Regions from separate parts of the Homo sapiens genome. Here region 2 is linked to region 1. The links come from fine-mapping of genetic effects on gene expression. Tissue or cell type: whole blood. Region 1 holds a variant in brackets; the other region holds the start of a gene. All regions are shown on one strand. Distances are between the middles of the regions.

What was found. PIP is the estimated chance that this variant, and not a neighbour inherited with it, causes the effect.
Region 2: it holds the start of CADM1, and the variant in region 1 is fine-mapped to the expression of CADM1 in whole blood (INTERVAL, PIP above 0.99).

The regions. Positions count from the first base shown.
Region 1 is chr11:115,559,066-115,567,258 of GRCh38, forward strand. No RefSeq gene overlaps it. Among named protein-coding and RNA genes, the nearest start is that of CADM1, 59 kb to the left of the region's middle. The variant G/T (reference allele first, on the strand shown) is at 3,906.
Region 2 is chr11:115,500,538-115,508,705 of GRCh38, forward strand. It overlaps CADM1 (cell adhesion molecule 1), which reads right to left and starts at 3,878. Exons shown (of 12, transcript NM_001301043.2): 1 at 3,734-3,878. The coding sequence starts at 3,857. RefSeq lists a silencer at 3,904-4,063.

The sequences.
Region 1 (8,193 bases):
GAGTTGTATAATCATTTCATTACATATTACAATGTAATCATAATATAAATTAAGTGCAAAATAAATGTAATGCACTTGAATCATCTCAAAACCCTCCCCTGCACCTCCAGTCTGTGGAAAAATTGTCTTCCACGAAAATGGTCCCTGGTACCAGAAAGGTTGGTGACCGCTGGCTTAAAGAGCTCAGGCTCTAGAAACAGATGGGCTTGGGTTTAAAGCCACTGGTGAACTATGTTGCCTCTGGGAAGATCCTGAGCCTGTTCTGAGGCCCTATAACCACATCTGTGAAATGGAACCACAACACCTGCCTTTTCTTGTGAGCATTAGGGATAGTGCATGGAGAGCACATAGGACAATTCCTGAAGAACAGAGACACTCAGTGAAGGACAACATTTACTATTATTGGACCACTGGAGTTGAAGACTGGAAAAGAGGATGAATGGGAATGAATACACCCCTCAGGTAGACATCTCACAGAGCTGGTAAAGTGTGTGTGCTTACTTTTTTTTTTTTTTTTTTTTTGAGACAGGGTTTCACTCTCTCACCCAGGCTGGAGTGCAGTGGCATGATCTTGGCTCACCGCAACCTCTGCCTCCCAGGCTCAAGCAATTCTCCTGCCTCAGCCTCCCAAGTAGCTGGGATTACAGGTGCACACCACTGCGACCTGGCTAATTTTTGTATTTTTAGTAGAGACGGTTTCACCATGTTGGCCAGGTTGGTCTCGAACTCCTGACCGCAAATGATCCACCCACCTTGGCCTCTCAAAGTGCTGGGTTTACAGGCATAAGCCACCATGCCTGGCCTGTGTGTGCTTACTTAGTGAGCTTGTGCACATATGTGTACATGTGCATGGGTCTGACTGATGTGTTAAGTGTGTGTGAAATAAGCGCATTTGTGTGTAAGAATGTGTGATATGTGCACACGTTTATGCACAAATGAGTGTGTACATGTGTGCATATAAATGTAGTTTTGAGTGAGTGTGTGAGTGTGTTTGTGCGTTGGGGTACTCACACTGACTAGTGCTCCAAATAGACTTTAGCTTTATTCATGCTTCTCTCTCCACCTGAAGTGTTCTTCTCTCCTTCCCTATCCTGTAAACTCCTTTTGATTTATCAAGATTCAACTAGTATCATCTCTCAAGCCATCCTTGAGCTCTTTGGGAAGAGTTGATCATTCTTCCCTGTGTTTTCCTCTGCTTTACTCTAATTAGAGTAAGCTGCAGGTGGAGGCATTAACTGTATGACCTCTAGACTCAGACGTTATAGGTTTGAATCTTGGCTCTTCGACTTGTAGCTGAGTGATCCCAGATCAGTTATCTGACCTTCGGAAGCCTTAATTTTCTTATCTATAATATGGAAATAATGGCGTCGTGCTCATAGGATTGATAGGTTTAAATAATACAATGCATGTAGAGCATTTCACATGGCACCTGGTTTGTAATAAGTGCTCAGACTGTATCAATTATCATCATTACTCTTACGAGTGTATTTGTCACATAGTATTAAAATATTAGAGGTGGCCAGACATGGTGGCTCACACCTGTAATCCCAGCACTTTGGGAAGGCAAGGTGGGTGGATCACCTAAGGTCAGGAGTTTGAAACCAGCCTGGCCAACATGACGTAACCCTGTCTCTACTGAAAATACAAAAATTAGCCAGGTGTGGTGGTGGGTGCCAGTAATCCCATTGCTCTGGAAGCTGAGGCAGGAGATTCACTTGAGCCTGGGAGGTACAGGTCACAATGAGTGAGATCGCGCCACTACACTCCAGACTGGGTGACAGAGCGAGACTGCGTCTCTCTCTCTCTCTCTCTCTCTATATATATATATGTATGTATATATATATGGTTCATTTTCATATTTGTTTCCCCAAATCTGTGAACTCCCTGACCATAGACTCTTTCTCTAGCATCTATGCAGTAGCCTGACATCCAGTAGCAGTTTAGTAAACATAAAGTAGTACTACTTATCTCTTCTCTTCCCTATTTCTATTTTTTTTTCCCATCTTAGCCTCTCCAGACTCCCTTTTATGTTACCATCAGAAGGAAAACTTGAAGGCTAGAGAACAGCCTCATTCCCATACAAAAGACATCCTCAAGCAACACATAAAGATCCACACTGTATCTATACTTGGCAGGCATTTGGCTTAGATTTATTACATCACCAAGGCTATTTTTTCCTGCAGTTGTATTCAATGGCCTCAATTGAAACACTAGAAAGCCTCTTCTGGACCATCAATGAGTCCAAGATCAAAACTTCTGGTAGGACAACACCCTACTGTTGCTGCTCCATAGAAAATACCCTCGGCCACCCTGGTCTACTCATTCCCCAAACATGCAACACCACGTGCAAAACCAGGTCCAGAAAGAGAAAAGGCCAGCTTGCCACAGAAAACTGACCCCCAGAAGTCACAGTGCAAAATACATACAAATAAATCATTGTATAGGACACAGGCTACCAGCCTCTTCAACTTATTATCCTGCCTTTGTTTTCTCCCATCCCTCCTTTTCCTGAAGGGATCTGAACTGGAGGCTCAGGCACATCCTAGTTTCTAAGGCAGTCATGATTGGGGCAGGGACTTCAGTGCAATCATCTGGTGAGGATGAGAACTAAGTTATGTTCTCTGACACTCAGGATTTGGTGTGCTTGGATGAGCACTGGGTACCCAAGAAACCTCCTAGTCAGGGCATTTCCTATGCTTCTACTATTATTCAATCCATAGGCCAAGACTTCTGCTTTGATGCACCACTCTGTAATTTTCTCCCACTCTATAATTTTCTGGGCTCTCTGTCTGGTATTACTAAGCCCCTTGCAGCTGGGACCGCTGCTCTGAAACTCATCAATGATGGGGTCTCTGGGAGGCCATCTGCTTCTTATCTGTCTTTCTTCCTGGGATTGGTTGCATCTCTACATCCCTTTGCCCATTGCAAGGGGCTTGCCGTACATGGATGGAACATGGATGCTGTATCCCCTTCCCTTTGGCCTCACCTCATCTCATCTTTTGAACTTCTCAGACCTGTGTTTGGCTTTGCCCAATTTTGTATAGGCAACAAGCATATACATACTAGACTCATTGGGCCCACCCCAAGGTCCCAGCCAGTAAAATTTGGCTAATTGCTCCCAAAGCACTGAGGACTACATGAAGCAGTGTAAAAGTTGTATGGCTATCTTCATTGTTCCTTGTAAGGATAGGTTAAGCTGCCATTCCTAAGCAGGTTTGGCTGGGCATGCATTCATGCTGGGAAGGGAAGAGGTGTGAAAGGTGGTAGCTGAAGAGCAATGTAGACTATAGGGAGGCCTGGTGTATTAATCAGAGTTCTCCAGAGAAGCAGAACCCATAGGATATATAGAGAAATATAAGAGGAGATTTATTATGGGAATTGGCTGACACAATTGTGGAAGCAAGAAGTCCCACAACCTGCCATCTGTGAGCTGGAGAACCAGAAAAACTGGTGGTGTAATTCAGCCTGAGTCTGAAGGCCTATGAACCAGGAGCTCCTGTATTTGAGGGCAGGAAAATACACATGAGTGTGTATTCGTGCACATAAGTGTGAAAGAGAGACGAAGAGAAATTCAGTTTGAGATGTGTTCAAAGTCAGGTGCTTATAGAGTATACCCAGAGAGTTTCCAGTAAGAGATTAGATCTACAGTGATAGAACTCAAGGGAGAAAACTGGGTTACAGACATAGACTTGGGAATCATCGAGACCCCTAAGGTCATTGAATCCATGAGTCTGCCTAGGAAGATAGTGCAGAATGAGAAGGGGGAGCTGAGTCTTGAGCCTGGAAGATTCCCAATATTTATGCTGTAGGCAGTAGAAAATGAGCTGCCATGGAGTCTGAGAAGAAGTACAAAGAAAACCTGAGAAATGTAGCCTTTCCAAAGCCAAGGGAGGAAAGAATTTCAA[G/T]AAAGAGGAATGATGAATAAGATAAGGGCTGAAAAGTGTCCATGGGCTTTAGTCACAGACATCACTGGTGATTTAGGAAAGAGATGTTTCAGTTTGGGGCAAAAGTCAAACTGGTGTGGATTTTGGAGTAAGAAGGTGAGGACATTTTTAAAAAGCTGGCTGGGAAGGGAAGAGGTGTGGAAGGTGGTAGCTGAAGAGCAATGTAGCCTACAGGGAGGCCTGGTGTGTTAGTCAGGGTTCTTCAAAGAAGCAGAACCAATAGATATATACAGAGATATAAGAGGAGATTTATTATGGGAATTGGCTGACACAATTATGAAAGCAAGAAGTCCCGCAACCTGCCATCTGTGAGCTGGAGAACTAGGAAAACTGGTGGTGTAATTCAGTCTGAGTCTGAAGGCCTGCAAACCAGGAGCTCCTCTATTTGGGGGCAGGAGAAGATAGCTGTCTCAACTCAAGAAGAGAGAGAGAATTGACCCTTTCTCTGCCTTTTGTTTGTTTGTTTGTTTGTTGTTTTTCTATTTGGACCCTCAACAGATTAAATGGTGCCTGCTCACAAGTTGGTGAGGACAGATCTTTACTCAGTCTAATGATTCAAATGCTAACCTCTTCCAGAAACACCCTAACCCAGAATAATGTTTTACCGGCTATCTGGGCATCCCTTAATCCAGTCGAGTTGCTACAAAATTAACCATCACAGTCTGCTTGATTGTTTTCTTTTTAATGGAAGAGACTTTAGTGTATGTGATTCTTCAAGGAAAGTAGACAGGAAGAGTTAAGTATCGAGGTTAGAGAGGGGATTCATGATAAAGAGAAATTCCTTTTTTTCTTTTTGGAGATAGGGATCTCACTGTGTTGCTCAGCCTGGAGTGCAGTGGTGCAATCAGCTCTCTGCAGACTTGAACTCCTAAGTTCAAGTCATCCTCCTGTCTCAGCCTCCCAAGTAGCTGTGACCACAGACATGTGACACCACACTAGGCTAATTCTTTTTTTTTTTTTTAATTTTTAGGGATGAGGTCTCTCCACATTACCCAGACGGGTCTCAGACTCCCGGGCTCAAGCAATCCTTCTGCCTCAGTCTCCCAAGTAGCTGGTATCACAGGTGCATGCCACTATGCCTGGCTAATGAAGAGAAATGTGATGCTGAGCACAGGTGGAAACACGAGCTTTCGACAGGAGAGGGACCCCTCTTCACCTTTAGACTAGATCTAGCAACCACCTATTAGAGAGAATGACCAGAAGGATGTCAGGTGGCAGATCAGTGGCCTACACTCTTAACGTTTGGCAGAGATAATCCACACAGACAAATTAGAGTTGCCTGAACTTGAAATATCTAAAATAATAAAACTCTCAAAGTGGCATTTCAGGGACTCTGACACACATCCGCAGTGACCCATGATGGTACAGGAGGGGTTGCCAATGACCCTGAAATGCTACTGTATGGTGCCTGCCTAGTGCTAATGGGAGATGGAACTCTTGCCTGAAGAACAGGCCCACTGGGGAGGTGCTGCCCTCCCAGGGGTGCTGGGCAGGGGTCTTCCCTTTGGGGACTGATTGCAAGGTTCCTCTGACAGGGCCTTTCCTTGCCCACTACCATTTTTCTTCATTATTTCTGCTATGTCACCCGTCATGTTGTCAGTTTCCTCTCAGAACGGCGATAAATGGCGCCTCTCATGTGCTGTCCTTAGGGGACACCTGTTATTTATTTCCATGATGGGCAAGATGCCATGGCTAATTAAGAAAAATTGTGGGCTGTCCACAGCCAATCCATAGTTGCCTGTCAGCTCAGCCCTACAGTCCTTCACCCCACATTGGAGCCATTTTCCCCACTGAGAGCTTTTGGGGGTCAGGAGATGAGAAACAATGGACGCCCCTCCCTTCCTTCATCCCTGAAAAGTTCCACACCCCATTTCCTGCTAAAGTACATGGGAATCGTAGGCCTATGCTGGAGGCCTCTTCCAAGCCTCAGACCCCTGAGGGCAGGGGGAAGTCAATCAGGGCCTTTCCTTCTGTTCACCCTAAGAACCCTGGAGACACGGCCGGCAGAGGAGTGTTCCCTCCCTCGTGACCTGGCAGGGAAAGAAAGGCAGGTTTCTGGCCAGGGCCACACAGACACAATGACCTAGAAAAACGAAATGACACCTTGCTCCTGCACAGGTTACCTGACTCAGCCTAGTCTCGGCTTCTCTAAACAATAGATGTTGCCGGCTGCACCTTCTGGAGTCCCCAGATTTCCAGGCCCTGTAAAAAGTGGTAGAAAGTTGGTGTGTGGGAGTCGGGGGAGAACCTACTCAGGAGAGGCAGCTCCTGGCCTCTGGGGAGCGAATGGTAGGGAAGGGACTCAAGATGAAATGGGGCAGGGCGCAGTGGCTCACATCTGTAATCCCAGCACTTTGGGAGACCAAGGTGGGTGGATCACTTGAGGTCAGGAGTTCAAGACTAGCCTGGCCAACATGGTGAAACCCCGTCTCTACTAAAAATAAAAAAAAAGTTAACCAGGTATGGTGGCCGGCGCCTGTAATTCCAGCTACTCGGGAGGCTGAGGTGAGAGGATTGCTTGAATCCAGGAGGTGGAGGTTGCAGTGAGCTGAGATTGCACCACTGCCCTCAAACCTGGGCAACAGAGCGAGACTCAAAAAAAAAAAAAAAAAAAGTTGCTGTGGGGTTTGGTGGAGGTTAGAATGGGGCACAGAGGGATGTGGATGAGTCTTTCTCTCAAGGCTTTTTTTTCTTTGGGATGCAGTTTCACTCTGTGGCTCAGGCTGGAGTGCAGGGGCACCATTATGGCTTGTTGTAGCCTCAACTTCCCAAGGTCAAGCAATTCTCCCACCTCAGCCTCCCAAGTAGATGCGACTACAGATGCACACCACCATGCCTGGCTAATTTTTAAATTTTTTGTAGAGATGGGGGTCTCACTATATTGCCCAACCTGGTCTTGAGCTTTTGGTCTCAAGCAGTCCTCCTACCCTGGACTCCCAAAGTGCTGGGATTATAGGAGTGAGCCACGTGCCTGGCCTGAAGAGTTTCTTACCTAAGGGGGTGTCATACTTCTGGGAGGATATGAGTGGAGGCTTGCCCAGGACAGGAGAATTGCCTGGATATTTCCTGTGCTCTTGAGACCCTGGATATTTTGAAATTCTTTGCGGGAATTTTCTTATAACTTCAGATGCCCAGGTGGTATTCTTTATAGTCCTGACAAAAGAGGCAAAAGGCATAGGGGAAGGGAGAGAGGCAGGTGTGACTGGCCTTGGGAAAGCTTTGGCTGAAGATTGGATCAGCGATTTGTGCCCTAAATGAAGGCTGGGGAAACCTGAGTCCGGTGCCTGGAACTGCGATATCACTCATCATGACTTCTCCCTCTGTCTGGCTTGCACGACTTCCAGCCCTCCCTGCTGGTCAGGCTATCAGAGCACTGCCCGAGAAGAAATTACATTGTACTCAGAGACGCGATAACTTCAGAGCAGCCTGTTTTCTTCACACTGGGACACAGTGCAGCCTCCCCCTTTTGTCTCCACTTTGATTCACATTGTACCTATTTTAACACACAGTCCAGGACAAAAGTCCAGTGTGTGTGACTCCCTCCTCCAGCTCACCCTCTGGTGCTGCTCCCTGCCCACATCGGCAGAGATAGGCACACCCTGCAGTGATGTGATCTGGGGTTGACATCCTAAGGACCCGACTGCTTCAGGAATTGCAGATGTTCCCATTAAAACCAGCAGGGCTAATCTGAGCACAAGTTGCTGTAATGCTGAAGGAAATAACAGTTTGCTGGGTTTCTCTGACTCCCCAGGTCCAGGAAAGAGAACATTTACAGGGAGGAAAAGGAACAAAGAAGAGAAAGGAAAGGAAGTCTACACACATGGCTGTGTGGTTTTGGCCCTTATTTCACCCAGACGAGGCCAGTGGCGATTGCATACTGTTTTCTGCACAACCAGATCTGCACCTAGTCTTATAGCTGCACAGTTTTGTGGGCAGACACAACTTCTAGACATCACCGGGAAACCACAGGAGGAACCTTGTGTTCTAGATCCATCTGGGGGATGAGGGTTACCCCCAGCCAAGTCCAGACCAGCCTGGGTTCTGTTGCCTTGGGTGGAGGGTCCCACGGGCCGGGGGAGGATGCTCAGGCAGCAGGGAAAGACAGATGGGAAAGAAGCCCTTTATCATCCCTGGATATCTAGACCTTTTGAAACATTCGGTCACTATTTTTTGTTTTTTTGGTTTTTTTTTAGGCAATGCTGTCTCTGAGCATTGGCCAGTTCTTGAAAGGTCGGCTGTTAGGGTGAGC
Region 2 (8,168 bases), 59 kb before region 1:
AGCACCATCAATAAGAATACAATTTTTGGATGCTGGTTTTCACAGCATTTCTTTCCAAATAAATAATAAGGCTAATGTTATAATTGCAAGACATCTTACCAATCTGACATTCACTATCAACCACTTCTTGACACATGTCATAGAAAAGTGACATCTCTTTCCCTTCAACCAATATATCCTCCAACAACATCAACCTCAACAGGTAGCTAGCATTGTCTTCTGTTGAAATTTAGAGCTGGAAGAAAGGATTTCACAATCTCTCTGTGGAGACCCAGGAATCCGTTACCTTCTGGGATTTTAGAGAGTGTGGAGAGAGATGAGCAGGCAGTGAGCCGGGGACCAACTCCGATAAGAATATGAAGTCAGGAAGTGAGAGAGGAAACGAAAGTGTCCTGCCTGTTGGCGTCTTCCCTGTCCCACTCCCCTTTACCAGGAGGGCCATTGGGGAAAACTGGATAAAGCATGTACAACATCCATATGAATAAAGCTCTTTGTTCCAGAGAACTGCCTGCTCTTTTATTCCCCCCCTTTTTCGTATTTGTTCATTTCAAAAGATTGCTCAATGGGTCTCTTGTTCCTCCAAAACGTCCCAGGCAAATAATGCAAGCTTGTCTCGTCACACAAGTCACTAAATGAAGCCTTGTGCGTCTCCAGTGACACACTGTAAATATAAAGTGGCATTAATGAGGGATATTTTATCAAATCTATCACAGACAAGTGCAAGTCCCTACTGCGGCTATTCAATCTGATGCAGGGAAAGGCAACAATAACAGGGCGGCACTTTTGTAAAGTCTCTATCCCCGGTTTGCAAGCCCCAACAGGCCAAAGCAAGCAAAAGTCAGCCCCCCTCCTTCCCATCACCACCATAAATCCCCCATCCACCAGCCATCTTCTCTAATCCTGAAAATGATAAGAGGGGGGTGATCAGCTACTGGTTCACTCGGGATCGTAAACAACATCATGCATGCACCTTGAACGTATAACAGGCGTGATTAACACTGTGGAGTGAGCTTAAGCAAACCCATTTTTACTGCATTTCATTAACATCCATTTCATCCAAACATCACAGGAGAAATGAGAGGAGATTTTCTGCGGGGGATGGATGGCTTCAGTTACAGGAGAAAACAGAACCAGGACCCACGCACGATGGTCCTAATTCGCTTTCCCAGCAAGGATGTAAACGAAACAAGCCTAATGAAGTCAGATGCACCAACAGGTTTCTTTAACCCTGGGAGTGGGAACTGGAGGCCTCTGAGAAAGCTTAAACAGAACTGAGGAGGAAAAGTCCCTTGGTGCCCACCTGAAATTTACCCCTGGGGTATGGGACCCCGGAATGAGCCAAGACCTCCTCTCAAACTCACCACGAAATATATATATATGCATTAAGAGAAAAAAATTAAGAAAGTCATCTCATCTCCTCACTACAAATCATACCCAATTACTTTCTAATTTGAACACAATCTGATAACCAGCATACAAACAGGGATGTACACAAGAGCAAGAAGCTGCTTCCATGGTAACTGGCAACAGAATTTTCATGTAGCTTTGACATGCACGGTTGAGTTCCAGACCGCTCCTAAGTCAGCATATATCCCTCGCAGGGAAGGCAACTTCTCACCGCGAGATAGTTACAAATATAGTACCGTTGCTACTACCCGGTGCCTTCAATGAGCAGTCTTGACAGGGGAGGCATAATCTAATCCTACTTCTGCTGCCAAGCGTCATTGCACGACTCCCATTTTTAGTCAAAAAGCAATATCCCCGACCACAGCTTTCCACCGCCCCCCGGCTTTTTTTTTTTTTTTTTTTTTTTTTTTTGCAGCCAATACAAGTCTATTGTTGCCTCTATTATGCGCCAGTTACCGAGCCTTTACTCACGCTCACGTTTAACTGACACTGGCGCTTTTTACAATGCAGCAGCACGAGGGATCTCTTTCAGGAACATTTTATTGAACCCATCCAGTCAGAGGCATCACCTGAAATGAAGTTGTAACCACACCGGCATCGGCTGAACCCAATTATCTCGTAACTCATAAATTAAGAATTCACAGAGGAAAAACACATAAACAACATCCGGAGACAGTGGCATGGAGGAAAAAAACCCTCAGCGCTGGAATTGACGCTGCTGCCAGACGCCCCCCAATAGGTTTCCCAAGCCGAGCTCCTTTGCAAGCCTATTTTGGGGGCAAGCAGCCAACCCGGCGTCCCCCAAATCTCAAGCTAGCACCCCCACACATCCCCCGTCTCCTACAGCGTGTCTCCTGCGGTGTTTACATAACTGTGTGTCCTCTAGCGTGTAAACAAAAGGCACAGCCCAAGCGGAGAGGCGCCCCTGAAGCAGCACCGTGGCCCCAACGCTGTGCCCGCCCGGGCCTGGGGCTCCGCAGGTGGGGGCTGAGCTCTCGGCGTCCTCCGCCACTTGTTGCTCCCGGGTCCTGCAGCTCTGGAGCTGCAAGGAGGGGCTTTGCAGGCTCAGAGCCCTGCTGCATCCCCTCCTGCATCGCCGCTCGCACCCCGCGGCCCCGTGCCACTCGGTCCCGGCGCCCGCCTGGAGCCTGCAGCAGGGGCCAGAGGACGCCGCGCGGCTGCCAAGCGCGGCGAGGTGGCGGGAAGGGAGGCTGGGTGCAGCACAGCCGGCCTCTCCGCTGAGGAAGAGCTCCGGCTCCCTTTTGTTAGCAAAAGCAAACACTGCCCTCTTCTTTCCCGACCGCGCCAACGCGCCCGGCACACGGGCAGCCACACATCGGGCTCCAGCCGAGTGCTCGGTGTCTTCAGGGAAGGCACCGGGCGTGCAGAGCCGCCCCTGGGCAAATTCCCAAGACTGCTCTTCACGCAGGGAGCGCGCGGAGGCCCGCAGGGTGCCCGCCTGGCCGCAGAGGCCGCGACGCCCCCTCCGCCACCCTCGGGCCGCCGAAAGAACGGGCAGCCGGGAAATCCCGTGTCCCCACTCGTGGCAGAGGACGCTGTGGGGCGGGCGGGCTGCGGGCTCCCGGCGCCTTCCCGCAGAGGCGGCGACAGCGGCCGCCCCCCCCGCGGGGCCGGGCCGGGGAACTTTCCCCGCCTGGAGCCGGGCCAAAAAGACCCGCAGCAGAGCCGAGGGGGCGGAGGGCTGCGAACGGCCGGAGGGAAACACGAGAGGCGTGCAGTTTGGGGACAGGGGAGAAAGGCAGAGCGCGTTGGGGGAAGGGGCAGGGGAGATCAGACAAGTCTGGGGATGTCCTGGGGACCGGGGAGAAATCACGCCGCGGGCGGCTGGGAGTCAGCCACCAGGAGGCTTCGGGGATGGAGAACTGGGGGGGCCCTCTGGAGAGGTGGGGGCGAATGGACAGCCCTGGGAGGTGGGAGGACCTGCAAGTTACGGGGAGAACGGCGAGTTTAGAAGGGTCCGGAAGGGTTGAGGTTGTCTTTGAACCATCCCCTTCCCCCATGCTTTACAGCCCCCGGGCCCCCCATTCTCACTCCACTCTGCACCCCGCGCCAAGCCGGGGAGAGAAGGTGTGGGTGCAGCCATCCCTGGGGACTCTCATTCACACTTAGCCGGGCAGGGGAGAAGGGGCTCACAGATGCCCTCAGCCCCTTCCCTCTCAGCCCTGAGTTTCCTCTCCACACTCCCTCCGCTTCGGATGTAGGAAGTGGGGGGAGGTTGTCATGGAAACGTTTCCCCCCTCTGTGGCCAAGGCTACTGGGGTGCCTTCGGAGATTTAGGGGCCAACCGGTCGGTGCCCACACCTACCTGTGGGGATCAGTGCCGCGGCGGAGAAGAGCAACAGCAGAAGCCGGAGCCGGAGCCCGGGAGGCGCCGCCGCCGCCGCTGCCGCCGCACACTGGGATCCGCTCGGCAGCACTACACTCGCCATGTCGGGCACCTGCCTCAGACTGGCGGCGTTGGCTGCCTCCGGAGCCCGAGCGGACAGCTAATGAGATGCTAATGACATGCGCTGGAGGCGGAGTCCGGGCAGACCAATCACAGCGCCGCGAGCCCAACCCGGCTCTCGGAGGGCCTCGCTCCCTCCCCCACCCCGCCCCCTGGCGCTGGCGTTCGGCGGCGCGCCCGCGCCACCTAGGGGCGGGGCCAAGGGGAGGGGCGTATGCAAATATGTTTATGTTAAAATTCGGGTTTTGCTTTCCCCGGATCAAGGAAAAAGTGTTCTCCCGGGCGCCTGGCGTGCAAGGACTCGGGCTCCAGGGGGCGGGTCTAGCTTCTTGTACACCTTTATTAGGAATGTTTATAGCAATCGCTGTATCAGACCGACGACTGGAGAATCTCCCTTAAGAGGGTCCTCTGTCCCGCACACCGAGTGCATCTGGCCTAGCGAACCAGACGTTGCAAATTTCCGTCACTCACCTTGCACCGAAGGAATAGATCTTTGGGAACGGGGGCTGTGCGGGAGTGGAGAGTAAGAAGGCAGGTCCCCGGATTGACAAAACAATCTGGGAGAAGTGCATGCGTGCTTTGCACGTCCGGCGGAGCGGGAGAGCCCGCTCAACAGCCTAGCGGTAGACTCGGGGATAGTTGGAGAAGGCAGCCGTAGAGTCGGGTTCTGAGATTTTCCAGTCGGTCTTTTTGCGGCAGAATCTCGGGAAAGGTAGATCGAGGAGGGTATGCTCAGGCTCCTCCGCTTGTCGAGGGTCTCCTCCCTGGTTTTAATATATAGGTGTGTGTTGAATATATGTGTGAAATATTTGTAATATTAGATATTTAAGATTACACAACAACGGAAAAAATTAGTCAAGGCTTCAGGTGAAGAGCGGGGGTGGTGGGAGTTGGGGAGAGGGAGTGTGGTGAAGGCAGGGTCTGCCGTGTTCCTCCTTCGGGGCTCAAACCCTCTCACTCCTCCTCTGCGCCCCCAGCCCTTCCTAAGGAAGCTGGGGACCAACAGGTGCTCCGAGCTTCCCCTGTCTCTGGGAGAGCCTCTCCTGCTAAAGCGACTTGCATCTCCGGACTCACTCTCCCTCCCCGAAATTCTCTTTGCTTTCTTTTCAGCCAGGCAGCCGGCTCTCTTGTTTGTCTGCTTTTTAATTACTTATTTTCTTCCCCTCTAGAAGATCGTGTGCGCTCTGACCCTCTGTTGCTCAAGCATCAAATTGAAGGACGAGCCATATTAAGTGTAAAGGTTTATAATAATTTAAGTATTCATAGAATGCAGAACAATAAGATGTAGGAAATACAATTTGCATAATAAATATCAATATCACAACAGCTAAAACAAACCATGACAAATTATCTGTGGCTAAATGACCAAGAGATTACTGAATGTAAATTGCTAAGTCTGAGCTATAGTCTAGAAGAGCTGCGCCAAATGACTTCCCCAGCCTTCTGTCCTCATCTTGCTATAAAATAAATAAATAATACATATCAAAAAGGAAGTCATGATCTGCCAACCCACCAAATGAGTTACACTTAAAAACAGCCTCCTATTATCCATTATGCATAAACTAATTTCGAGACTGCCCGGTCTTCACAGCCCTGGATATTCTGCTCTGTAATTACAGGCCCCGATGCATGAACTGCAGGCAGTCCTTCAGAAGTGGGGAAAGCTCCAACAGGAGAACAGCACTACAGGAGACAGGAAACCATTGCCACGTGGGTGCCAGGATAATGCCCAGTCTGCAAAGTCCTACCCGTTCTTACTACCTCTGGCAGTGAGGTACCTGGGTCGGACCAAATAGAGAGCAAAGTTCCACCAAAATTGGAATAAAAAAGTTAAGGCCAGCCGGGCACGCTGACTGATGCCTGTAATCCCAGCACTTTGGGAGGTTGAGGCAGATGGATCACCTGAGGTCAGGAGTTCGAGATCAACCTGGCCAACACGGCGAAACTCCGTCTCTAATAAAAATACAAAAATTAGCCAGGCGTGATGACACACACCTGTAATCCCAGCTACTCAGGAGGCTCAGGCAGGAGGATCACTTGAACCCAGGAGGCGGAGGTTGCAGTGAGCTGAGATCGCATCATTGCACTCCAGCCTGGGCGACAAGAGTGAAACTCCGTCTCAAAAAAAAAAAAGTAAGGCCATATGTATGCTGAAAGTGATATGTAAACTATAAAGGCAGGTCCTATATGGCAAGAATCCTGACACAGAGCCTGGCACATAGTAACATTATTATCTGCCGTTACTATTATTACTACTCTTGCATTCACTGAATTCTTAAGTATTCTACATGCAAAATCTCATTTAATACTTGAAACAATCCCCAAGGTACATACTATTATCTTTCATTTTATATTTTTTAAACATGATTAGAAAGATTAAGTAACTGCCCTAAGATTACAGTCTCTAACTTGCAGAAAGAGCCTATGCAATTAACCACTGTGCCTTTCTAAATATCCGTAAAGTGAATGAATAAATTTCACATTACAATGCATGAATAATAAGCAAAGGATAGCTACATTTTTAACATAAGATGAAAATATGCCAGCAACCCAGAAACATTTTTTTTTTTAACTAACAGAATTGCAGTATACTCCTAAGGAAAAACATTCCTCATGAAGCTGAATCTCCAGGAGAATCTAGCCAGGCCCCAGTCCTCCCACACTCGGAACACAGTATGGGGACATTGGAAGATGTAGGGTGTTTTCATCTCCCTTCATTCTCTTGGCACATCAAATGAACACCTACTCAAATTTCCAGTTGGCAAAGAACAACATGGGACATTTCTGTAGGAAATGCTAATGTCGTATGATTTACCTCACTAGAGGAATGCAAATAGCTTTAGAAATTTCCACCAAAATGTCCCCTGTGCCATAAGGTTAAGGAACTTGCACGTACAATTCCCCAGGTAAAGAAACTGAGTCCTGGGGCACATTTAGACTGGGTCTACATGCAAGAAGCAGAGCAGAGAATTTAGGATTAAGCTGTTTCTAGTCTATCCACTAGCCACACGCCTTTCCTACCCCCAGCTCCTTCACACTGAAGATCTCGCCAAGCAATTTAACATATGGAACATGTGAAGAACGCATCAAATTCCCGCAGCCGCTAAGTACAAGTTATGACTACTCTGGCTTTCTCATAGTAAAGCTCGTCATTTTCTGCTTCATGGACTAGAACTCCTCGCCAACTACAAGTTCCAAAATTTTCCCCTTTGCTACATGGATTTAACCAATTTTGAAAACCAGATGGTGTTTTTGCCATTTATAACTGATAATCAATTGTTTTGTGAATTTAATTTTTCAAGAAAGAACTGAAATACTTATCAGAATTACAATCTGGGTGCTTCTTGTGTTTGAATATAATTGCCAGAAGCACCAAGAGCCCAGGTTTTCCTTTTCTTTTTTTCCTTTTGTTGTTGTGAGAAACTTTAAAGAGCAAGAGTGAGAGCAAGAGAGAGAGAGACCTTATATTGTTTGCTTTCACTAAAACAGTTAAGAAACATGGATAAACATATATGAAAAATGATCATTAAAAGATGATTCATGTTTTGAGGATACATCAGAGACAATCAATGAGAACTAGCAGCATCTCGCTTTGTAAAGGACTAATTATTTGAGTACCTAGGTATAAAAAGCAACAAAGACAAATGATTAGGGAAAAGAAAACAGTATTTGGAGTCAGCATTTGCCCCGCAGGTGGATTATTTAAGTACCTATAGAAAAGTGATTTAATCTCTATTACGGACTAAATGTTTTGTGTCTCCCCAAAATTCATATGTTGAAGCTTAAACTCCCCCCATGTGATGGTGTTTAGGAGTGGGATCTTTGGGAGGTAATTAGATTTAGATGAGATTATGAAGGTGGGCCTCCATACTGGGATCAAAGTCCTTATAAGAAGAGCAAGAGATACCAGAGTTCTGTCTTGCCGTGAGCATGCACCAAGGAAAGGCCAGGTGATCACACAGCAAGAAGGCAGCCCTGTGCAAGCCAGGAAGAGGGCCCTCATCAGAACCCAATGGTGCCTTCCAGCCCCCAGAAGAGCACAAAAATAAATTTCTGTTTTTTAAGCCACCCAGTCTACAGTATTTTCTTATATCCTCCTGAGCAGACTAAAGCAATCACTAAGCCTCAGCTGCCGTTTTCAAAAGGTGCATTAAAAGTATCATAAATGTCAGCTTTTGATAGAAAAGCATTCCATACATTCAAGTAAGTTAGCAATATATTAGAATATTGGACTAGATAGACTATTGGTCTCATTTAGTAGCTCTTATATACTTTGATTAAGATTAAGAAGCTC